Linked DNA regions of Homo sapiens: region 2 is linked to region 1. A link means that fine-mapping ties the variant in region 1 to the expression of a gene that starts in the linked region. Tissue or cell type: thyroid. Region 1 holds a variant in brackets; the other region holds the start of a gene. All regions are shown on one strand. Distances are between the middles of the regions. Region 1 overlaps SORCS1 (sortilin related VPS10 domain containing receptor 1). Region 2 holds the start of SORCS1 (sortilin related VPS10 domain containing receptor 1).

Evidence for each region.
Region 2: SORCS1 starts here. The variant in region 1 is fine-mapped to the expression of SORCS1 in thyroid (GTEx, PIP above 0.99).

The regions. Positions count from the first base shown.
Region 1 is chr10:107,003,763-107,016,561 of GRCh38, forward strand. The region is part of intron 1 of SORCS1 (sortilin related VPS10 domain containing receptor 1); the gene reads right to left. Among named protein-coding and RNA genes, the nearest start is that of SORCS1, 150 kb to the right of the region's middle. The variant T/TTTTG (reference allele first, on the strand shown) is at 6,674.
Region 2 is chr10:107,157,819-107,170,617 of GRCh38, forward strand. It overlaps SORCS1 (sortilin related VPS10 domain containing receptor 1), which reads right to left and starts at 6,888. Exons shown (of 26, transcript NM_052918.5): 1 at 6,151-6,888. The coding sequence starts at 6,708. RefSeq lists a silencer at 6,604-6,797.

The DNA.
Region 1 (12,799 bases):
GACTAGTGTGCCTCTTGTTACATAATTAACATGGCCCTGAATAGTTGGGAAGAAGGAAGGGGGCAGGGAATAACAGAAACTCATGATTCAAAAGCAATCCACAACAAATCCCTTTTTAAAGCAGAGAATACGGCTGGGTGCGGTGGCTCATGCCTGTAATCCCAGCACTTTGGGAGGCCGAGGAGGGTGGATCACAAGGTCAGGAGATCGAGATCATCCTGGCTAACACGGTGAAACCCCGTCTCTACTAAAAATACAAAAAATTAGCCAGGCGTGGTGGCTGGTGCCTGTAGTCCCAGCTAGTTTGGAAGGCTGAGGCAGGAGAATGGCGTGAACCCGGGAGGCGGAGCTGGCACTGAGCCGAGATTGCGCCACTGCACTCCAGCCTGGGCGACAGAGTGTGATCCCATCTCAAAAAAAAAAAAAAAAAAAAAAAAGCAGAGAATACTACTGGCATTGTATGTAATAACTCCTGATATCCAAGTTTGTATTCCTAAACAGGTCTCTACAATCATTTTTCAGTTCCCTTCTTTGGTAATTCCTGTATTAGTCTGTTATCACACTGCTAATGAAGACATACCCAAGACTGGGTAACTTATAAAGAAAAAGTGGTCAGTGGACTCACAGTTCCACATGGTGGAGGAGGCCTAGCAATCATGGTGGAGAGAAAAAGAAGAGCAAAAGGATGTCTTCCATGGGAGCAGGCAAGAGAGGTTGTGCAGGGGAACTCCCATTTATAAAACCACAAGATCTCGAGACTTATTCATACTGTTCTCATCAGAACAGTATGGAGGAAATGACCCCCATGAGTCAATCATCTCCACTTGACCCCACCTTTGACTTGTGGGGATTATTACAATTCAAGGTGAGATTTGGGTGGGGACACAGCCAAACCATATCATTTCCTGATTAAACCTCGTGATTTACCAGAAGTGGCTACTCTTCTGGGAAGCCCTCCTTACAATACTCTTCTATAGGTCCATACTTTGGGCTGCAGGCTGGCATCATTAAAAATATAAAACTTTTCATCTGCACTCTAGTCGAGGCATTTTTAAAGGACAAAATTATAAATTCCCATAAATATGCTGGTATGTGTGTGTGGGTGGGTGGGCCTGTGCGTGTATGTGACAGTGAATTTCTAAAGAAAGCCAAAGCAGTGACCCTACAAAACAAAAGCAGCAAGTCATCCAGCCCTGATTAAACTTTCTCCAGTTGCCTGCCAATATGGAAAGATATTTTAATGTAAACCACTGAAAAACAATATGCCTATATAGAGTAAGAGCCCCGGGGTGGTCACAGCTAAGAAAATTCCAGCTACAGCAATCAACTCTAAGGAAATAATTGAGATATGGTCAAAGATCTCCGCATAAGGGAATCCCATCACGGCATTATTTATAATAGAAAATGAAAAGCCAAGAGAGGCTTGGTTGCTCGCACCTATAATCCCAGCACTTTGGGAGGCTGGGGTGAGAGATCACTTGAGCCCAAGAGTTTGAAGCTGCAGTGAGCTATGATTGTGCCACTGTATTCCAGGCTGGGTGAGACAGAACGAGACTTTGTCTCTTTCGGGGGCGGGGGGTAGGGATGGGGGTGGAGAAAAAGCTGAACACTATGTAAACTTTAAAAACTAGAGATTGTTCTAAATACAGAAATTTTAAATGTGGAATCATATAGATATGAGAAATTATGGTTTTTTTTGAAAACTTTCACAAATAAAGGCTGAAGATAAAATTTTAACTGAAAGACAGGAATTTTTTAAAAACTGCACAAGCATTATGTTCTAAAAGTTGTATTCCCTTTTTTCCATATGAATACCTACATATTATGTACACTTTATAATAAATGTTAACATAATTATCTCTTGGTAAAATTCTGCACAATTTATTTTCCTTTTTTGTACTTTTCTGTACCCTATGTATTTTCCACAATAAGATTATTTTACTGTTGTAATCATGGGGAAATTTTATTTAATGAGGTGGGACCATACAATATTTTAAAATGACAAAAATAGGCATATGATTCTCACATATTTTGTGATATTAAAATTATATGAAGATTTCAGTCCCATTTTTATTCGTTTGTTGACACCTAACTATAACTATCCAAATGAGAACCTATAATTATTTGGAATCAATAAATATTTCAATTTCTATACCACCATGATAGAAAATTATATCAATTGCCCATTCTTGATTTTGTGGTAATTTGTTGAGGACTGAGGTGTGTCATCTTTAGGCTGTATTTTGACCCACCTCCCCTTCATATTTCCCTACATTGTCCAATTTAATACATATCACAGCACAGCAGCTTTATTTCTTTATGCCTCTCCTATTAGATTTTGAGTTATTTGAAGACTGAACTCTCATTTATGTACTCAATACATACTTATTGACACCTTAATATACCATAAACCCTATTCTAGGTCCTCCTGGTAGAACAATGCAGCAGGAGAGAGGGAGGCATGGATGACAAAAAGCTCTTAACCTATATCCTTGTGTCTGTATCCCAGCTAGCCCTGTGCTTAGCACCTGACAGGTACTAGAAAAGCAGCTGTTCAATGAAAGAAACAAGGAAGACAGGGAGGAAAAACAGGTGTATTAAATCAGAGCAACAAGAGAATAAATAGATGGCACAGGGAAACACTATTTAATATAAGTAATGAACAGGTGAAAGAACCCCAGAAGGGTAATAAGTAGTAAGTCAGAACTGTTTCTTTCTGGAAGGCAAAAGAAATTGGACTTTCAAAGAAGAGAACATGAAAATAGTAACTTTCCACCGGGCATGGTGGCTCACGCCTGTAATCCCAGCACTTTGGGAGGCCGAGGCGGGCAGATCACGAGGTCAGGAGATCGAGACCATCCTGGCTAACACGGTGAAACCCCATCTCTACTAAAAATACAAAAAATTAGCCGGATGTGGTGGCGGGCGCCTGTAGTCCCAGCTACTCAGGAGGCTGAGGCAGGAGAACGGCGTGAACCTGGGAGGCGGAGCTTGCAGTGAGCCGAGATTGTGCCACTGCATTCCAGCCTGGGTGACAGAGCGAGACTCCGTCTCAAAAAAAAGAAAATAGTTACTTTCATAGTACCTCCCACAGAACTGCAGATTCTTCTATTATTCTCATTCCTTTTAAATTTATATTTTCATTTTTCAATGATTATAAACAAATTTACATACTCAAATGCGCTTATAGCAAATCTTAACATTCCAGAGACGAAGTGTTAATTTTTTCTAGGTTAAGTCATTTCCCTTGTATCTCCATGTCCCGACTAGACCTACGCTTAGCATCTAGTTTGTTCTCAATTTTGTAGTAATTAGTTTTTGTGTTAACCTTGGTCTAAAACTTCCCCTGCAATCCCTGTGTAATCATTTGAAATGTCTTCAAAAGGTTCATTGACTATGAAAGTGGTAACTGTGTGTGGTGATTAAAGACAGTCACACATTCTTTGGCCTCCTCCCAAGGCAGAGAGGGGGTCTTTGTCTTGTCCCTTTTAACTGGTGCAGGATCTTGTTTTGACAATAGACCACAGTAGGAGTGACACTGTGCCATTTTCCAGATGAGGCATTAACAAACTGTTAGCTTCCACTTCTGTCTTTTGGAACACTCTGCCTTAAAACCGAGCTGCCATGCTGTGAGGAAGCCCAAGGAACCCTTTGGAGAGACCCTAATGGAGTGGAAAGATGTCCCCTGGCTGAGTTTCCAGGCAACAGCCAGTACCATCTTACCAGTCATGTGGGTAAGCCATCTTGAAAACAGATCCTCCAGCCCCCGCTGAGCCTCTCTAGTTCACGCCTCATACAACTGCCACTGGCAAGTCCTGCCCAAAGTGAAGATTCATGACCAAAATAAAGATATGTTGGAGTTTTAGCCATAAAGTTTTAGGGTAGTTGGTAACACAGAAATAGGTAAGTAGAACATTCTGGATGAATCTTTAGAAAACATTATAAAAACTCAGACCTGTGTTTGTCCTTCACACATGAGCCTTCTAGTAGAGAATACACTAACTACACTTCAGCACCTCTAGGCCACATCCCATTGAATACCATGCGAGGCTCAGGCCCAATTACGCTTACTTGATAGCTGTGCAATAACAAACGAACATACAACATATTCTTCACTTGTTCTTGGCCAAAAGGCCAGGAGGTGATGAATATACAACATACTCTTGTAGAATTTCAGTGCTGATCTAAATTTCAGCTCCTCCCATGATAATATTATAAAGTGCTTTGTATGTTGTCTAAAGATTTATTTATTTGTCTATTGTAGGTTAATTATTCACATTAGAAATGGAGTATTAGTTTAATAAATTCTTTTTTAAAAAAGACTGTGATAGCATCAATTAGATTCAAAATGAGAGGGCAGTTTTTTCTATACTAACATCATACGATTCTTCATCTAGTGCCAGTGACAACTTCAATAGTACATAAAATAGTAGAGTTGCCAGTATTTTTCATAAAGCCACTCAAAAAGACAGTACAATTTCATTGGTTTCCATTTTTAAGGTGATAGAAGTCCAAACCCTCAATGTAATTTATGCAGTACAATTATGCAAAGCAGTGTTCAAGCCAAGTCACAAGGTCATTTTTATATAAAACACAAATATACATTCTAAATTTTCTCTGGGACAACTAAACATGTAAATGTTATTTAAAAGAGCGTGCAAAGATAATTCAAATACCTTGATTAAAATGCAGTTGTAGCATTTAAGATAAATGGCTTCATCACATGAAAGATGTTCCCACAACAGACAAAAAGTTAATGCCTCTAATATTGTCATTGAAATAAGTAGATTGATGAATAGGTTGTGTTAAACGGTACAATTAGAAACAATATTTGATAATGTATTTCAGAGATGGAGCTAAGAAAGTACATTCTGCATACTGGATAAATTTGCTTAAGTCTGGGTTATATGAGACCATCAGAATTCAACAGCACTCAAAAATGGTTATTATATGGGCCGGGTGCGGTGGCTCATGCCTGTAATCCTAGCACTTTGGGAGGCCGAGGCGGGTGGATCACGAGGTCAAGAGATCGAGATCATCCTGGCCAACATGGTGAAACCCCGTCTCTACTAAAAATACAAAAAATTAGCTGGGCATGGTGGCGGGTGCCTGTCGTCCCAGTTGCTCGGGCTGCTCAGGCAGGGGAATCACTTGAATCCGAGAGGTGGAGGCTGCAGTGAGCCAAGATTGCGCCACTGCACTCCAGCCTGGTGACAGAGCGAGACTCCGTCTCAAAACAAAACTAAACAAAACAAATGGTTATTATAACTCTCTATTTTGTTTGCTTTGGTAAGTTCTGGTCATACAGAGATACCAGGAAGATTTGTTATTTGGTTAAATTATTCCACGTCGATGCAAAAAAAATTCTGAAGGGTCTGAATTAGTTTTTCAAATACATGATCAAGTATGGCAAAAATGCAGTGACATCTGCATATAGACGTTGAAAAAGCAACAACAGGAAAAACTGTAAAATGTTGTGACCCTTATAAAAGCTATTCCCCAGATATTATCAGGCTGTTTTTGTGTGTTGCATGGAGTAGCACCATTTTCAATTACAGTTGCTTAGACAATACAATATATACTGTTCACAAATCACAGACATTTTAGAATTATTTGGGCAGAGAGTTCCAGATTTTTATTTTTTAACTGAAGTGTTCAGCTCTTCTGATCAACACGAAGGGCAAGTATGAATGTTTAAATTGAGAAGAGAAATCACTACTTTTCTGTTTCTCCTTAAAATAGAATATAGTTTTTAGTAGCAAAATAAGCATAACACAGGACACAATGTTATTGAGTTTAGGACTATGGATAAAATATCTGGAATGACATTCAAAGTTAAGTTTGTACTCAACATATAAAGCAAATAAATTCTTCTGTTTCATGTAGTTGCTGGGACAGGCACCAAAATACGCAAGATTTAAAAACATATATATAATTGAAAATATCACAATCTCATAATATGCACAAAAGTATTTTCTGACGAAAATGTTAGACTTACTAAGAAACCTGTTTTTTGACTTCCTTTAAATTGCTCTTTCACCTATTGAGAGATGCAAATAATTATTATCAGAGCGACAAAGAATAGGTGCATAGGGAGACAATACGTAATATAAGTAATGAAGTAAAAGAAACCCAGGAGGGTCACAAGTCAGAACTCAGAAGTGTATCTGGTACCGATTCAGTATGGAAAGAAGACTAGTAGAAAAACTGAAGTATATCTTAAGATTGAAATTTGAACTGTTGAAAAACTTATGATGTGGAACTATGTATGGAAGCCAGTATAGTCTCAGTTCTGAAAAAAGAATCTAATCACTGCATCAAACGTATTTCTAAAATTAGTAACAGTCATCCACAACACCTGTTTTCAAATGTTTGTTCATCAATATAACTTCAATATTTGAAGCCATGGAGTTTGTAAGCACATGAACTTATACATTTGTTAAATGAAATGCTGTTTTAATACTTTCTAAAGGATGGAGTAGGGGAGATTTCACAAAAGATTTCATTTATAAAATTGGTTCCCTGCTAAATAAGTTTGAAAACCCACTGGGCCAGAAAATTTTTCAAACAGTCGCTCTGCAGGACAGAATATGAAAGAAAATCCCAGCCATGCTTAATCATGCTCCACTGAGTTGAGGCCTAGTTACTTGCTCACAAGGCATAACTTTATTTT[T/TTTTG]TTTGTTTCCGTAGTTTCTCTGAATGAGTTCTTCCATTTTATGGAAAAGAAAATGCCATTCAGTTAAACATCCTGCATCGGTGAACATCCATCACTCAGTTCATCTCCCCTGCAGATGTGTTTCTCCACCGCTTTGTGACGTCAAGCTGCATCAGGCGTTTGCCTTATCCACAAAGCACAAAACTTGGACCATCAGCCCAACTCAGGAAAGTTAATAGGAGCTGATTGAACAACTGAGCTAACCGTGGGGCCTGTGGGTCATTTTGAGAGGCCTCAGATCTCTGAATAAGTTGGCGGTCCCCTTCCTTTTGTAAGACCGAGTTCATAAGCAGCTTCCAATGGAGATAACAGGCAATCGCAGTGTCTATTGGCAGAGGTGTCCTGCATGGCTTCTTTTCCGCTATAGTGAATGTGTCTTGCAGATAATTTCAGTTTCTCTCACAGAGCTTTCAAACCAGATATCACCCCACTGAGACAGGAACACAGTGATTTTTTCACATGCTCCACCAGAAAATGCATAAGTCAACTGAACCACATGGAGCCAAGCCTTGTGATTCTTCAACATGCTGTAAGATCTGCCTAGACGGATGAAGGCAATTCCCACACACTGGGATGAGCAGGAGGACAGGAACCTCAGAAGGAAAGAAAATAATAATAATTCTGCCCTAATCACCAAGTAATGCTGACAGGTGACTGATAAATAGCAGCTTCCTTTATGGACCTCTTAACTTTTTGGCTGTGGACAAAATAAAGCCCTCTTTCTTGGGTCTGTTTTAGACCCACTCTCCCTTTCACAGAGCATTATCCACAGCATTGAAAACTTGTCAGTTCGTATTCCTTAAACCACTTTTCACTTCTTATGCCAATGCCGCCTCCTATGGGGGAATAATTGAAAGTCTGCAATGGAATGTAGTGATTAAACTCATCAAGAGCAGATGATAAGAAACACGACCTTCCACATAAAAGGGAGAAAAGCATGTTTGTCTCCAGACAAATTCATGCAAACCTCAAACAATTGCTCTCCTTCTCTTGTAAATGCTGTGTCTTTGCTTCTGCCCTGCAAGCTACCCAATGATCACTCCATTAGATGCTACATGGACTCTTGTTCAATCATTAACAGCCACAAGGTTTACTTCACAGCTATCCACAACTCCTTGCAGAATTCCAATGCTCCAAAGAACTGGACAAGTTACCTCTTGCAAAACTGGAGACCAATGAGATGCCTAGAGATTTGTCAGATAATACAAGAGAACAGACAGAATGTTTCACCTTCTCCTTACAATTCTCCTACTTATTTTTAACCTCCCCAAACACCAAAAGCCATTTGCTGTATATGGGGGTTCTCTATCCCCAGGCTGTTTTACTGTATGCCATGGAGATCCTAAGTAAAGAACCAGCTAATTTGCCATACCTGGAATATTCTGGGTTATAAAACACTAGATCACAAGGTTGTCTATTTAAATATTGATATATCACAATTTTATATTTGTAAGGACTGGTGAAATAAGGAGATCTTTATTTCTAAAAGAAAAGAAAAGCCCACAAGTATGTTTACTGTTTTATCATTTTTTTAGTAATTTTTAACATCAGAAGCAGTTCCTCGAAGATAACATGTTCAAATGTGCCCAGACAACAGGTAGAATCAACTGTTATTGCAGCAGATTTTTTTTCGTGAGTTCCTCCAAGACCTTGTCTAAGACTGAAACAGGGACATTTTTGCTTAGTTGCAATTTCACGCTTTCCTTCCATTTTCCAAGTTGTGGTTTAGCCTCAAGGAATAGCCTTGGGTATCAATCCAGTCTCATCCCTCACACCCTCTTCCCATCTTTATGGCTAGACATTTGAGATATGTCAGCAGAGGTTTGCAGAACTGCAGTGTAGTATAACAATTAAAAGCCAAAGTGCTGGAGTTGAACAGGCTTGAGGAAAAAAAATTCACACAGGGATGCTCACAGCTCATAGGATTTTTGGTGGGAATAATGGACATGATACATAAGTGTTTGATAATAAATAATAATAGCTAGTATTCATTTAGCTTTTATTATGCTAGCACTTTTTATATATTAACTTTTATTTTCACCATAGCTATGAGAAAGATATCATCATCCTCATTTTACAGGTGAAGATTGAGACATGAAGAGGTTAAGGAACCTGCACAGAGAGGTGAAGTTACTTGTCCAGTGTCATAGAACTAGCTCATGGAACAATCAGAATTGGAACTAAGGTAATCTGCCTCTAGTGTCCACATGTTCCACCACTACTTTGTAAACAGAACCTGGTACAGAAGGACTGTTAACTCACTGTGACCCTTTTCCTCCATCACTTTCTTAATCCTATAGTTCCCCACAGATACCATGGGATTTATCATCTTTATACTTTTATTTATAACATTGTGCATGTTTTGGCTAGCTCCTCTCTTTCCCCATTTCCTTAACTCTTACCAAATATGAAGGATGCATCCTAAGCTATGAACTCCACTAAGATGTCTGCACCTGTCTCTTCCAGGTTGAGTTGCTTGTTTCTCTTCTACACCTCCTTAATGCCACTTCATGTCTTGGCCTCCTATTATCTGTCAATGTGTCCAATTTTCTCCCTTGGTGGAGTTCCTTAAGGTCGAGGAAACAGCATTCAATTCCATATCCCTAGGGGCTTGTAGAGTACCTGGTACACAGTTGGTAGCTAATTAATGTTGAATAAATAAACAAATAGAAAGTCTGAACACTGCCCCTTGGCTTTTGGCAGGCTCCCTTCACAAAACTAAAATTCACCTGCCTTAAGTATGTTTGGAAGAGGTAGGGCAAGGGATCAAGCTACTAGGAAAAGTTGGGTAATGTGGGTCACATTTAACCGAGTCCAGGTTTCACTGAAATTCAGCAAGAAACCTTGCAGAAGTTAAAATAAATGGCGTGGAAAGGTTTCAGATCTAGCCAGGAACTCCACTGAGCACTGAGATGGAACCTGACACCAAGCAGAAGGTAATCAGATCTGGGTTAACCTGGAGTCACACACAGATAGCCAGCAGGAGACTCACTTTTTCTTTGAGTAGGCTAATAAGAGACCATTGTCCATTGTATTTTATTTCATTGCTGTTCTCTCCCTTCCTGCAGTATCAGTAGGATTAACATCAATAATGGGGCTGTCTTTGTATTTACACATTGTAATTAAGCCTAGATGAAACCTAAAGAGCTCTTTAGGGATATTTATTAGCATCCAGAACCACCTCAGCTTGTAGGCTACCTTTGGCCAGTGGTTGGAAGACAGAATTAAATAAAACATCCACTGTGCAATGACACCATAAATTCCCTCCAGGACTCCTCCTGCCAGCGTGTCTGACCTCCTCATGCTACAAGGATACAGAACCAGGTTGTTGAAGATTTTGTTTCTAACAAGCTTATCATGGTTTAAAAGGTCTGTAAAAATGAGTCACCCAAGTGACTCTTGACTCTAGTTCCTGCTAATTTAGAATCTCTAGATTGCCACAGAGAAGGCCCACCCAGTTATTTCTGGCTACCCTTGGAGGGGGCTTAAAAAGAGAGAAAAGGCCGGGCACAGTGGCTCATGCCTGTAATCCCAGGACTCGAGGCTGAGGCAGGCAGATCACAAGGACAAGAGATCGAGATCATCCTGGCCAACATGGTGAAACCCCGTCTCTACTAAAAATACAAAATTAGCTGGGTGTGGTGGCGCATGCCTGTAGTCCCAGCTACTTGGGTGGCTGAGGCAGGAGAATTGCTTGAACCTGGGAGGCAGAGGTTGCGGTGAGCCAAGATCATGCCACTGCATTCCAGCCTGGACCAGACAGAGGGAGACCCTGCGTCAAAAAAAAAAAAAAAAAAAGAAAAGAAAAAAAGAGAGAGAGAGAGAGAGAGAAAGAAACAAAATAGGGGAGAAGGAAGAAAACATCTTCCAGCTTTTTTTCTGGCCTTTGCTTAGTGTTGCAGGGCATCAGCCCTCTTGTGGGGGCCACTGTCCATTTTTGTGGATACTTTAGAGCTGTTAAAATGTTTCAAGGTGTCAAAAGTTTGCAAAGTTTTCTATGGCAAAATGAGAAACTAGGAATTGCCAAAATGCTTCTTTCCTCCTTTAGGTCACAGCCAAAATGGAACCGAATTCCCTTGCTTTCTGTTATGTTATAGCAGCAGTTCTCAAAGTGCGGCCCCTGGACCTACAGCATCTGCATAACCTGGGAATCTGTTAGAAATGCAAATTGTCTGGTCCAATACCAAAATTTAAAAATGCTGGAGGTGGAACCCAGCAGTCTGTGTTTTAAAAAGCCCTCCAAATAACTCTGATGGACATTCACGTTTGAAGATATTTTACAGAATTTCTAGAGAAAAAAAGTTTTACTTTTTTAAATTTACCTTTTCACCACATAAACTTATTGCATACAATTTGATGAGTTTGAATATGTACATATTCTTAAACCACATTCTTTTCTCCCTCTAAGGATGCTGATATGAATTCCTAAAGGAAGGAATAGCCAATTGTGGTTGGAATATGGTCAGGATCACCCTTCCCTTGCAACTACTAAGAGAATATATTACTGAATCAATATCCCATGCTTAGGGTCAGGATGAATTCTTTGCAAGGAGGCTCCTCAGACCCTTGTGAACACTGACTTCTCTAGGGCAGCTACAACCTTTCACCAGAGTATACCCTATATCTAAATCACCGGTAGAAACAGATTACGCTTAACCCTATGATTCCATGAAGGAAATCATTCATTCAACGCATTCTACAAATATGTGTTGAGCACCTACTGTATACATAGTACTGTTCTTCCCTTGGGATATGTTAGCCAACAAAGCCAAGACCTCTGCTGTTGTGGAGAGATAGAAAATAGATGGGCCTTACTCAGTAAGTACATTGTATGGTATGTCAGAAGGTGACTTGTGTTATTGCCATCACACACACACACAAATAGAGCAGGGCAAGGAGGTTTAAAGTGATGTTCTTAGGTTTCATTCAGAAGGTGGTATTTGAGCAAAGAGTTGACAGAGATGAGGGAGTTAGGCATGCCAGTAACTGAGGGAAAAGCATTTAAGGCAGCGGGACAGTGAGTACAAAGGCTCAAAAGCAGAAACATCCCTGTCTTGGAGAGTGACAGTTCTGGAATCAAAATACTGAGAATTGATGCTGTATATGAAAACAATATCCATAGTCACAAATAATTTCAAAATGGAAACTATAATAATACAATATCATGCAACACATGGCCTCCTGGCTCTCTCAATGATCTATAGTCTTCAACAATGAGGACAGATGTTTTGCAAGGACTCTTTCCCCATTATCTCCTTGAGAACATTTGATGAATTAGAAGAGTTCATTTGTATAATTTTGAATAAAGGTGACAGATTTGTAAAGATCTCAAAGAAGCAACTTTGGAATAGAAAATACCTAAGTCAAAATAGACTATTAATATAAGAACTACATATTGGGTATAATGTAAATGACTTGGATGATGGGGACACTAAAATCTCTGACTTTATCACTATACATTTCACCTGTGTAATCAAAAACCACTTATACCACAAACCTATTGAAATAAAACAAATGTTTAAAAATAGACTATTAGCAATCAATTATAAATTAATAGGAAAAGACAATTGGCCGAGCAGGTTTAAGAATGTCATAAATAATAAAAATTTGAGAGAGCTACACTACCAGATATGAATATTTTTAATAAATCTATAAGACAGTATGGAAGAATAGACAAATTGACAAACATGGAAGAACATAGAACTCAGAAATTGGCTCACAAGACATACGTGCATAATATATGACAAAGGTTGCACTGTAGAATAGTCAGAAAAGATGGCTTTTTCTATAATGGCACTGAGTCAACTGGATACGTCCATATGGGAAAACAGAAAATGAATCCTGACTGTTAAGTTACACTACACACAAAAATCAATTCAATTAGCCAGGTGCAGTGGTGCACACCTGCAATCCCAACTATTCGGGGATGCTGAGGCATGAGAATCACTTGAAGCTGGGAGGTGGAGGCTGCAGTGAGATGAGATTGTGCCACTGCACTCCAGCCTGTGCAACAGAACAAGACTCTGTCTCAAAAAAGAAAAAAAAAATCAATTATAGGTCGATTGTACATTTAAATGTGTAAGGCAA
Region 2 (12,799 bases), 150 kb after region 1:
GGAGCCTGGCCTCACCTCGCAATGAACACATCTCTTCTCTGCCATCCCCTTTGGCCACTGCAGAGATGCTGTTTGGCCAGTTTCCCCTCCAGGAGACACAAGTGCCTTCTCTACACCTTTTAGCCACAAAATAAGGGACAGTAATTAAGACATACACAAAAACAGGACAAATATTTTACATACATTTAGTGGCTGAATATAAGCTGGCAAGGAGAAAAATTAATTTATCCTCAAGGCAGCCTGAACAGTGATCTCTCTCACCAATAACTTAAACAAAAGAAAGTCCTTTTGTGAAAACTCTGTGTGGAAAGTATCAAGGTAAAAATGAAACAATGATGACTCCAGCTAAGATTTAATGTGCAAATAAGGTCAGTCATGTCTCTCAATGACCATAAAGGTTTTTATTTTCCTACTGGGCTTGGAATGTACCCAAATTTACTACAAGATTGATGTGTATATTTTTTGCTTAACTCATATTTTTCAATCATTCCTAAGGTTAAAACTTTCGTTAAACATAGTTTTTAAATCAAGTAATTTAAATTCCTGGATATAAAGAGGAATGTTTACATCTCTTCCCTTGACCTTTGGTTATGACATCCATTCAGCTAAAAATATCCTTGTAATAATCTCCAACTGTTACTTACAATCTTCTCTACATTTCAAGGTTTCTCTGAAGTACCTACTCTACAATCCAGCTTGAAGGCCATCCCAGCCAGAAGATGCCCAACTCTCCCCTGACTTCCTACAGCATGTTCTGTCCTCAGAGAACGTACATCTCCTGCTGTCTCTTAAGAAGTTTCTTTGGGTACAAGACCGAGAGCTCATTGAGGGCAGGAATTATTTCTTTTCATCTTGTGTAGCACTTCACAAATATCCCTATGCCAGTGAATGACAAATATTAGGAGCTCAATAAATATTTGTTGAATTAAAACTAAACACAATAATTTGCGTAAGGCTCTTGGCATAATTTTGGCACATAGCAATTACTCCTAAATGGGAGCAATTATTATTTTCATATATAAATGAGATTCATGTATCTGCTTTTTTGCCCTATCCTATGAACTTCTAAGGTCTCTCTTTAAAAAAATGTGGATGTAGTTCTGACAGTCAACATTCATGTCAATGTTCTCTAGAAAATCTCATTAAATAACTAAGAGATTTTTACTTTCCAATTTCACATGAGGCATTTTTTTGGGGGGGAAGGGGGGTCCAAAGTTAGCAAGTTCCTTAACATGAAGATGTAATACAATAAACCCAATAAACTATGTTTTGCTGCAAACCCATGTGCACAGATTGAAATGAAGGCCTGCTGGGATCTCACATTACTTGATTTCCCCTAAACAGATATGCATATGAACTGAGGAAAAAGGAAGAACCTTGTGAAATAAAAGGTTTGTTCCCTTACAGGTCAAGGGTATAGGTCATTATGTCATTTCTACATCCCCAACACTCCTAGTGCACTTTACTTAGTAAATGCAGCAGGTATCCAGTATCTGTATGAACAAAGTATTAAATTAGTTTTGACCTGTAATGGATTTTAGTCCATTAGTGCCATTTTACAGAGGATGAAATTGAGGCTACAACATTTCAACATGCTATGACTACGTATCTAATTTTTGTATACAGCCAGTATTATAACCCACAATTCTTAATTCCCAGTAGAGAAATCTTTCTTCCCATGAGTAAGTAGCATTTATTGAGCATTTACTAGGAATAAAGCACTTTGTATCCACGATGTCGCCTCCTGAGGAAAAAACCTCCGAAAGATATACTATCCCCATATTTTAGATGGGGAGACTCAGGCTCAAAGAATTTAAGTGACTTACTCAAGGCAACGTGCTGATTTAGCAGGACAACTAAGATTCAAACTCAAATCTGTTTGATTTCAAACCCATTGCCTTCCAAATCACACCACATTAGCATTCATATAGCATTAAGTACTGAGAGAAGGAATTACGTGGACTTGCTAGAGAAAGCTAAAATCTTTCATCATTTTACTTTTTAAAAGGTCAGCTCCTCCCCACCGAAAAAAAAAAACTGTATCAAAATGTATAGCCAAGTCAAGCATTCACAGCCAGTGTGTCTATAATATCAGATTTGCCATTAAATTAGAAAAGGAATCTATTCCTGAGGAACAACTGAGCTGAAAGCTGAATGATCGCAGGTTACCTCTTGCTCACTGAATCACCAGGTGCAGATTCCATGTCTCACTGAAGATGAAGAGGTGGGTGGATGAGAGAACAACCAAAGCACTACTTAAGGTAAAGGGTGCAATGTGACAGGCACATGTTAATGTCCTCGCTTTTCTACAAGGAGATGGAGCTTCCAGCTAAGAGTACGTCCTCCTCCACCATCATCAGAAATCAACTCAAGATAGGATTATCTAAAATATAAACTCCAAAAGGTCTGAGTTTTTCCGTCCTACTTTAAAGTCCATTGAACAAGCCCTTCTGTGCAGTCTGGGAATAGGATCACTTTGGGTGACAGTCTCTGTTCTGCCACTGACCTCCTGTGTCTATTTGGCAATTCATTTAGCCTCTTGGAACCTCAGTTTCCTCCTGTATGTAATGACAATAATAACACCTACACATGACATTTCTGTGAAAAATTAAGTGAGATGATGAATGTAAAGCATCTACCCCAAAAGTTGGCCCAGATTGGGACTCAATTTATTCACTAATGTTGGATGGTAAATGTCAAATCCCAGAACAACTAGAAGCAAAGAGGTACACAGAAATCAAGCAGTCCATCATGTGCTATGAGAAATGTAACATTAAAGATGTCATCATGGAAAAATAGAAGTCAAGTAAAACCCTCTGTTAACAAATCTTGTAATACAATTGCCAGTGAGAAAGGGGCAGAGTGGTGAATTGAAATACTAAACTTAACTCCGGCATAAAAATATGAAAAAGAGATATTAACACCCGTCACCTACTTACTACCTACAAAGGATTTTATAAAGATTAATGCTACAGCACTTTAAAATCCCTTGGAAATAAGGAATAAACACATACACCATTATGCATACATATAAAGGCAAATATATATTTTAACACTCTAAGGATTACTATATAAATTTAGATCAGGGCACAGCATGCCTGGGATGAGTAGGGTGGGAACAATATGTTCTTGCTTACGACACCAAGCTCATGACAAATGATTCATACCCAGCACCTTTCATGCCAGAAGATCCCCCCAGGTGTTCCACCAACTCTAGCAACAGTTTCCATCAATCGAGACTGCAGTACAGAGGAATCACATCACACCCACAGACGAGGCAAAACAGACATGTCTTTATACAACTGCTCAAGTCCAACAGCTGAGGGGGCAGGAAAGTGAAGGGAAGGAGGTGAGTGAACCATCCAGAATTCCTCACCAGATTGACAAGCAGCCTATAATTACCATGCATTTGCACCTTGAATGCAGGTGTTGTCATAATCAGAGACTCTTCATAGCAAAGGCTTTTTGCTAAAGGTGAGAAGGGTTCACAGGATGTGCACTGCCTGTGGTCCTGAATGGGTCTGGGGGCAGATTTATAGGGGAGGACATCTAAATGTGAAAAGATAAGAGTCCCCCATGCCCCTCCACCACTCCAATCTGGCCCTCGGGTTTAAATTAGTGGATTTCCCACCCTGGGGTAAAGTGAAGTGCTGTTGAGAGTTCCAAACAAGTGTATGAGGCTGTAAAGTCACACTGCCCTCTTATGTATAGCCTGGCTCCTAATTCTCTGTAGTTAATCTGACCGGCATAGCCCCCACTTTAGAGATGAAAAAATCCACATTCAGCGGACACTCAACTTGCCTCGGTCAAACCACAAATAAGCAGAACTAGAATTCAGGTCTCCACTCTGCTTTGCATTCTACAAAACGGCCAAAAAAAAAAAGTTTATTTATGCTTTCTTTCCCTTTAAAAAATATTTTAAACTTTCTCTGAGTCTGGTCCAGATACGTAGGACTGGCTTTGTTTTGGAGGACATAGATAAAGACTATTTCTCTTTCTCCACTATCTGTATGTATATACTTAAAAAAGAAAAAGAAGAAACACCTTTGTGTGTGATGACCAGAGCAGAGACTGGGTCAGCAGAGGTCTTTATGGAATAAGAGACTTCAGGGGGCAGAAATCTCACCTCATTAGTTAACATGATTTGAGTGATCAAAACTTTAACACTCATCACCTCATTTCCTACGTTATCTCAGACCTGCCTGCATGTTCAATGCCCTGAACCTAATAAGCCCTACTAGAATTATAAGCACCATTTATTATTATTTTTTAATGCTGGCAGTGCTTGGCACCATTTCCTAAACGGAGGTTAAAAATTTGCCAAAGATGTATTCTACTTTTCTCTTTCTTTCCAAGATCTTTCAAGAGATGAGCTAAAAGAAGAGGTCTAATGGGTGAGTGATATTTTACAGCTTGAATTACATTAAAAGCCAGAAACATTCTGAGTCCAAAGTCTTTTACTTCTTAATACAACAAGAGCTAACATGTTTGATGTGTTTCAAATCTCCCCTTAAAGCCAGAAGCTTTGAGTTAATCACTTAAAGCAGTGTGAAAGTTATTCAATCAGTTTAAGAAGATTCGAGTTCAAATTAGAGGATTAATTTTAGTGGCTATGATATGAAAGATATAATGGTTAAGGTAAGGAATGAGGGCAAGGGTCTCCAGAACTTGAATGGAAAGAATTTCAGCTTCATTTATTTGATCAAACCACTCCTGAGAACCATATAAAATCACAGACTCTGTCATGAAGGAGGAATTGTAGGGAAAACCCTGCTACTACTCTCAGGACAGATACATCAATGCTAAATATTATCTATCATGATGTGCCTTAATACAATTTATATCTGTGTACCCAAGGAATTCATGATGACAGATTAGTATTTTAAAATGTTCACAACTCTCATTAAAAAGCTGACAATGAGCACAACTCACTAAAGTGGCACTTCTCTGGGAAGGTTTCTGGGAATTACATCACAACAGAAAACGTTTTGAAAGGTTCCAGACTGCGTAAATTGTGCATATTACAAACACTACAATCTCAATTACCTGGTTGAAGCTGTAAAACTTGAAATTTTTTTCCCCCATTTTACCCATCCTTGGTTGTTATGTTCTTGTCTATGTCTGGAGAAGTTTCCACACTTTAAAATCACTTTTAGTTATTACAATCAAAGCTGGTTCTCTACTATTTCAACTCACTGAAGTTTCTAGGTTCAATTTAAACAGGAATAGCTCCCTCAGATTGCAGACATGCAAGCTTTTCTGAAAATCTAAAACCTTTCCTGATAGGACCAAAGCTCATGGACTTGCATCCTAAGTCCCCTGGAATCCAGCCTCCTGGAATTGAGCAATCCCTTTCCTGCCTTCATAAAGGGAATGTTAAGTCTTTATTTGTGCTCTTCATTAGAGGAGGTCAGGCAATGGGGGAGAACAGGGAGTTGTTGTCACTGGGATATATCTGATCTTCCTGGGACTGACCATGCCAGAGAACAACCGCTCATTCACGGGCTGGAAAGCCCCAGTTCTCAAAACACCCTCGCTTAGCGCTGTTAGAAGATGCTGGAGAGTTCCTGCCCTGAAACTTGCATCCACTTGGTCCCTAAAGCAGAGGATACACTAAAGAACACCTTATATACTCTCCACTGCAGTTCTCCCTTGTGGAGAAGAAGGGGTTAGGAGCTCCGCATGAAATTAAAATAAAATAAAATAAAACGCCTACATATATGGGTCTTCTTAATCTTCTTTGAGCCAGTACATAGGTCTGGCAAGTAAAGGGAAAGTCACTTGAGGGGATGTCAGCTTGCCTGGAAATTTAACCCTTTCATCTCTGTATTAGGAGAACTTTAACCCCTCTGTTTACCTGGTCTTCAGTTCCACACACCAATGCGACCAAGGCAACAGGAAATAGGGATTTGACTCCTCAGTTTGAAGCTGTGGCATTTGGAGAGGACTCTGATGGTGTTGGTGGGAGAGATGGGGAGGTTGGTCTCCTAGTAGGTGATGTTAACTCTTGGGGGAAGTGGGCAGAGACCAGTTTGCAGCATCTCCCATGTCCAGAAACCCTATTTCCCCCCAATTCTCCATCAGATCACACAGCCGACTTTAACCCTTTCCATCTTTCCACCCCTTTACCCTCAGTCCCATTCTACTCACGCTGCTGTTGTGGCCAGACCAGTGGACCATGGCTTGGTTGTGTGCTGAGTCTCCCGTCAGCGCAAACGTGGTGCTGGTCAGTCTCAGCTCCTCCATCCGGAAGCGGGTGGCTTTGTCCGGGTCCCGCTCCCGAGTCCCAGGCTCCTGCTGCCCTCCATCTCTTAGCACTCCCCGGGGGCTCCGACTCGCGCCCTCTCCCCGTTCTGCCTTCTCCTGATCCGCTCCGCTCCGTCTCCTCCGGCCGGAGCGTGCAGCAACCGCCATGGATGCCCCAGTGCCCCGAGCCCGCTCCAGGGATAGCGCTCGGTCCCCGGGGGCCACTGAGAACAGGGGACGCACTACGAGGGGCAGGGGCGTGGCAGGAGCCCTGCCTGGCCGCCCCTGGTGGGAAAAGCCCCTAGGGGTCGAGGCCGAGCGTGGAGCGGAGCTGGGGTGCGGCGAGGGGCAGCAGGAGCCGCCGCCGCAGACGCCCGGGGCGCAGAGGATCAAGAGCCCCGCGCCGGCGAGGAGCGCGCTCAGCCGGGCTTGGGAGCCGCCGCCGGCGCCAACTTTTCCCATCGCGGGAGCGAAGAGCAGCGGAGAGAGGGGTCCCAGAACGAAGGTGGCGGCACGAGCTCTGCGCTGGCGGCTGTGGGGGGCCGGCGCTCAGGACCCCAACTCCATCCAAGTTGCGCCGCGGTGGGGGCGGGCGGAGGCGGCGCCGGGCAGGTGGCGGCCGCTTGCCCGGGCTGGGCTTGTGCCGAGCGCGGGTCCGGACGGAGCGAGCCGCCGCCGCGCGGGGGTGGAGCTGAGCTGAAGTCACTGGCGGAGCGGGCGCGGGCGCTGGCGGGCGACGCGGGAGGGAGGGCAGGCGCTGCCGGGACTCCGGGCGCCGCGTCCCGCGGCCGAGCTGCGCTGCGCACCGGGTCTCCGGGCGCTGGAGGCGCCGCCGGCGACCTCCCCTCGGCCTCGCAGGCGCTGCCGCCGCCTCTCCCCGCCGCCCACTCTGCGCCCCCGCGGCCGCGGGTCCCGGCGCTGAGTCCGCGCACCCTGCCCGCGGGGGCGGTCGACCCCGGGCTCCCGGAGCAGTCGATGTGTCGGGAGCTTCCTATTCCTGCTTTATTGTTTCTATGAGTCTATGTTGCTGTTTCCTTTTTTCTCCGTCTTTCTGGTCTTTTCTAGTTGAGGAGATAGGGATGGGTGGGCTTCTGCTCCTTCCCTCTCTTATGCTTCCTGAGTTGGCATCTTGACCTTACCCGCAGCAGAGCCTGTGTGTCCCAGCCTGGGGGGAGATCCCGGAAAGGCAGCAGCAGAGAGTGATGTAATTAAATGATCTCGTGTGTGAGTGTGTGTGTGTGTGTGTGTGTGTGTGTGTTAGTTTGGGGGATTTTTTTTCCCATCAATTTTAACGCTTAGATTTCTCTCCTAACCTCCTAAAGCATTCACTGAATTTGAACCCAATCTTCCTGCATGCAATCATATTTAAGAAAACGCTTTCCACTACGCGTTTTTTAAGCGTATATATCTTGGTTTCCCTAAGAGACTGCAAACTCATTGAGGACAGGAAGATCAAATTTCGAGCAACTTGGAGGAAGTGACCTGTTTTTTGTTTACCATTTTCCTCAGTACGTGGCACAGTACCCTACATGGGAGGAAATCTGCCAGTCATTAGTTCAATAAATATTTATTGTGAGTCTAATGCATATCTGCATAACAAATAAATACAGGAAAGGAGGCACAGTACTTATAGTTATTCTGTGTCACTTGGTGCCTGGCCCAGTGCTACTGCCACATGCTTTGAGATCCCTAATAGCAAGTCTGTGATGGTGCTCTGCCACTGGTTTGCTTTGGGACCTCAGACAAATCACAATCTGTCAGCTTCCTAAGCTTTAAAATTAAATGGTCACATTAGATGACCTTTAAAATCCCTTCCGCTCCTAAAATTCTATAATTGTATGATTATAGTATCTGCCCAGCCTAGCACCCTGCTACTATTCGTAAGTTCAGATGAAGATTTATAGCAGGTGAATGGGCTTTGAAAACGGCAAAGGATTTCTCAAAATCCAATCCTTTTTAAAGTAGACAGTTTGCTTCTAAGGGTTGAAATGGTTTCAGATTTCTTTGCAGTCTTCATATACGTAATATTCTCTTAGGTACATGTTATTACATTATTTAATGAATATTTACTGATTGAATAAATGAATGACACAACAAAATAGTACCGATTCCAGTTTCTAGTTACATTTTTGTTCATTTTCATACTAGAATAATAACCTCACTGAAAAATCTGTATACCGTGTTTGCGATGAGGCCAAGTTCAAAGTAATACAGAGTGATAATTACTCTTCAATTAATGAAATTCTTTCTAATGTCCAAGAAAACGTCTGTTATATCAATCCAATCCAGAGAGGTGTTGTAAAATATCGGCCTAAGTTCTTGTTCTTACGACCAGCGCAGAAAAAGTGCAAATGCAAGGAGGGCAGGCTTCTCAGCCATTAAACTTGAGTACCTAAAAGGACCTAAAAGAGTGTCCTGTTTGTCGTTAAAGAAGAAATACAAGCAAAAGCTCCTTTATGCCTGAATCCTCCAAAACAGAAAGGCTGTCTGGCAGGCTATGGCCTCTAGATGGAGGAGAGGAGAGCCAGAGGTCCTCTCTCCTCCTCAAATTGCAAATGTTCTTTGTCAAAACCCAGAGCGGTAGTTTTTTCTTTCCTCAGAAAGGTTTTTAGAGCTTTGCAGGATCATTTACTTAATGACTTCTTTCTATGCCCTGCTAACCTCCTTTCCAGTCTGGATAAGTACATGGGAATTCCTCCAAGAAAGGAAAAGCAGATTAAAGAATCAGAACCCAAATAAATTATCATCCAAATATAGGCTGGAAGAAGCAAAATGGAAAAGAAGACATTAGTGGATTCAGATTTCCTGGCTTTAGTCTATCATTGCCCTACCACCATTTATGTTATTTTGGTTTCAAAATGGAAGCGCTTCCTGAAGAATGCTCGTACAAGTAGAGTAGATTTTTCCTTCCCAGAATTTACAACCTCTTTTCAAACACACCTGTCAGAATGATCCCTTTAAAATGAAAGCATTTGCAGTCCATTTGCTGGGAGTTCATAGAGAGCAGGCAAGTTTTTAATGCCTGATTTTAATTATTCATTTGAGACAGAAGTTACACAAGTGTGGATGACATTGGCTGCAAGCCGTATTGTTCATATGTAGATAGATGGATTCATTTTATTTCTTATGGCTCTGCTCCCCGTTTACTTTTGCCAACAAACAGAAGCGGAAAGTACCAGTAATTTCCTAAATTATTCCCCTTATCTAGAAGACTCCAATAAATAGGCTAATCATGGAGGGGAGTCTATTTCAAGATGTTTTCAATCCAACAACCCACTAAGCAATCCAATAGATTTTTATTAATATAATATAATAAGAATGAGTCATTTGTTAGGAAAGTAATTGATATCAAAGGCTAGTAGAGAACATAAATCTGTAATTCCAATAAGGAGTCTTTTCATTGTGCACGTGACAAATATGCCACGACTTCATCTAAGTTATCATCATTTCTCATCTGGACTACCACAACAGCCTCTTACTGCTCACTCTACTCCATAATTGCACTGTTCCGTTCCTTCTCTCCAATAGTCATCTCCAAAGATGACACAAGTACAAGGGCACAAGCACACTCAGGTGATCCATTTTTGTGCAAGATGAAAATAATAGAATTTGGTGATATATTTAGTTTTAATCAGAAAGATTAAAATTTAGCCTTGCTAAAATATTTAATTATTGATTAATATACCTATGTTATATACAGTTTTATATACAATATAAACATATGTATATATATTCATATATATGCATATATATGTATAAAGAGAGAGACAGAAGCAGATAGAGAAAGAAGCAGAGGCAGAAAGACAAAGAATATGAACATTTAGTCATTGTATACTGATTGGTGTGCACAATCAAAAAAGTGTGGACACTCTGCCCTACAAGGCAGCAAAAGTAGTCTTTCAAAAGGATAAAAAATATAATTTATTGTAACTGCTTAATACTTCCTGCCAGCTTACCATCACAAACAGAATAATATCCAAACTCCTTACCATGGCTGACCAAGTACTCACTTCTCCATCACATTTGGCAGGATTCTCTACCCTCATCCTAATACGCCAACCATTAGGGGCTATCCTTTTCGCTGATGTGCCCAGTTTTTTCCAATTCGTGACCTTTGCACATGCTGTTCCGCCTGCCTAGAACGTCCACCGTCCAACCCCACTTCATATGGCTGACTCCTCTTTTTTGAGACCTTCACTTTAAATATACAACCTTAGAGAGACTTTTCCTGAACCTCTGCCTACAGAAGAAATTTATTCCACATTTTCTGTATCAATCTCTTGCCAGATCTTTCTAAGCGTATATTACAGCATTTAATTATTTTACTTAAACCTGTTTTTTGTTAATAACTTCCAAAAAATCCACATGTGGATAAAGGCCCTGTGCTCCTTATTTCAACATTTATTTTCAACATTAACCTCATTTCAACATTTCTTTCAGTGCCTAGTTAATTAAGTGCTCAATAAATAATGGCTGGTTAGCTGGGTGGCACCAGTATAACAAGCCTAGGAGCACAACTCTTAGTAACTAGTACTTTGTAAATCAGATATATACTCTATGCCAGAAACTATGCTATGGAGTTTAAATGTACCAGCTCATGCCTTTTTTTTTTTTTTTTTTTTTTTACAAAGCTTATATCACATAAGTACTATCATTCTCCCCACTTCACAGATGATATTAAGTAACTAGGGTCACACAGCAATTAGTGCAAAGAGACAAGGTTTCTACGTAGGCATTCTTATTCCCAGTATGTTCTTGATTTTATGAAATACTGTTTTACTCCAAATCCAACTAATAACAGATAACACTTATTGATGATTTTCTATGTGTCAGGCACTCTAATTGGCTTGAAACATTTTTAGTAATGCTGAGCAAGCAATTTTGGGAACAAGTGTGCACTTTTTTTAGGCTGAGGGGAATATATATACTCCCCATTTCTATTTGCTTTTATTTTGTGTGTGGGAAGTAATGTTAAAGAGAATGTTATAACCACTCCCCACATAATCTTACAGCATAAGCTACAGGTTAACTGTCTCATTGGTTTTTTGTCTTCCCTTTTTCCTAAGTCTCTTGATTTTTGATGGCTACTTTGGCTTCAGTTTGCACTAAATCACATTTATATGCCTCATCGTTTGAACAATGTCTTTTAATAGTTCTCAAAATATTTGGCTCCCCTTGGATACCATTGAGACAAAGTGTCTTGTCTTGCATTTCAGATCAATTTCATGAAGAACCACAGAAAGAAAACTGGGGAGAATAATATGCAGGCTATTCTCATTGCCTGCCAACAGAATGATGGGATTTTTAAAATCTGTCCCTTAAAATACTTTCAGGTATCAACAAATACAGACCTAGCTCTGAATCCAGTAATTGTACCCGTTCTCATACACCCAATCTAAGTGGTGTTAGTAGGAGCACATAAGCCCTCTTATCTTTAAAAACAGGGCTAAGATTATCTACCTAACTCATAAGGATGTTATGAAAGTTAATTCTACCTTGGACACCCGTTGGAGATAACAAAACTATCTTGGATTTGTGTACCCTCTGTCTCATCACACCTCTAAACAGTTTTTGTTTTGCATTTTTCCCCCTAGTTTAATAAATCTTGCAGCAGCTCCAAAAGATAGGTAGGGGGCAGTTTTTGCCTGTATCTTACAGAATACAAATAAATTTATCTAAGGTCACAGACTCAAAGACAAGACTTAGAGCAGATTGTCTTTTTATCCTTTTCCCCCCTGTTTTGTCCAATTCTGTTCCCAATTTGTATATTCATGAATTAAAATTCCACATTATTTTTGTGTAGCTATTATGCAGTGCTTATACAATCATTTCAGGTTTCAAAGGATAGTTTGCATAATTAAGTAGGAAAAGAGAAGCATGAAATAATATCACTGTCATTATGTAAACTCACATATGCATATATATTTTTCCAATTTTAATATTCATACTTAAAGTGAAATAGATAAAAATATACTATGATTAAATAAGTTTATTTAAAGATTGTATTATTAGATTTTTGAAAATATACCTTTACCAAAAAGTCTGAGAATGCATTAACATAACTTTATTATAGTCTTAAAATGATCTGAAAACTGTAAAATGTAACTTCTGTGTTCTCTGTTTTCTGTCTTTCTCTAGCCTGTAAGTCTAATATAAAAAGGCTTTGATGTACTAAATCACGAAACCAACTTCATAACATGTTTTCTGGTCCAACTTCCCTAGAAATACAAATAGGAAAAATAAACTCAGTTTATTTTAAACTAAACTTGGAGCTACATTTCACTTTTGTTGCTTCAGGAATACTGACTAGAGGAGAGAAGACAAAAGAAACAAAATGCTACCTCAAAAAACTCTTTAAAGGCCAATGATTGCAAAACCAAAAGCTTCTATATGATAAGAAGTCTTTGGTTATATTTGTCCCCTGTAACAAGAACCTATCCAAAGATGAATGAGGTTAATATAAAGCCCAATTCAGTAGACTCCTGTGGCATAATATTCCAGCAGAATACAACTCTATAAAATGTACAGTAGCCACTGAAAAACAAGGTCTTTG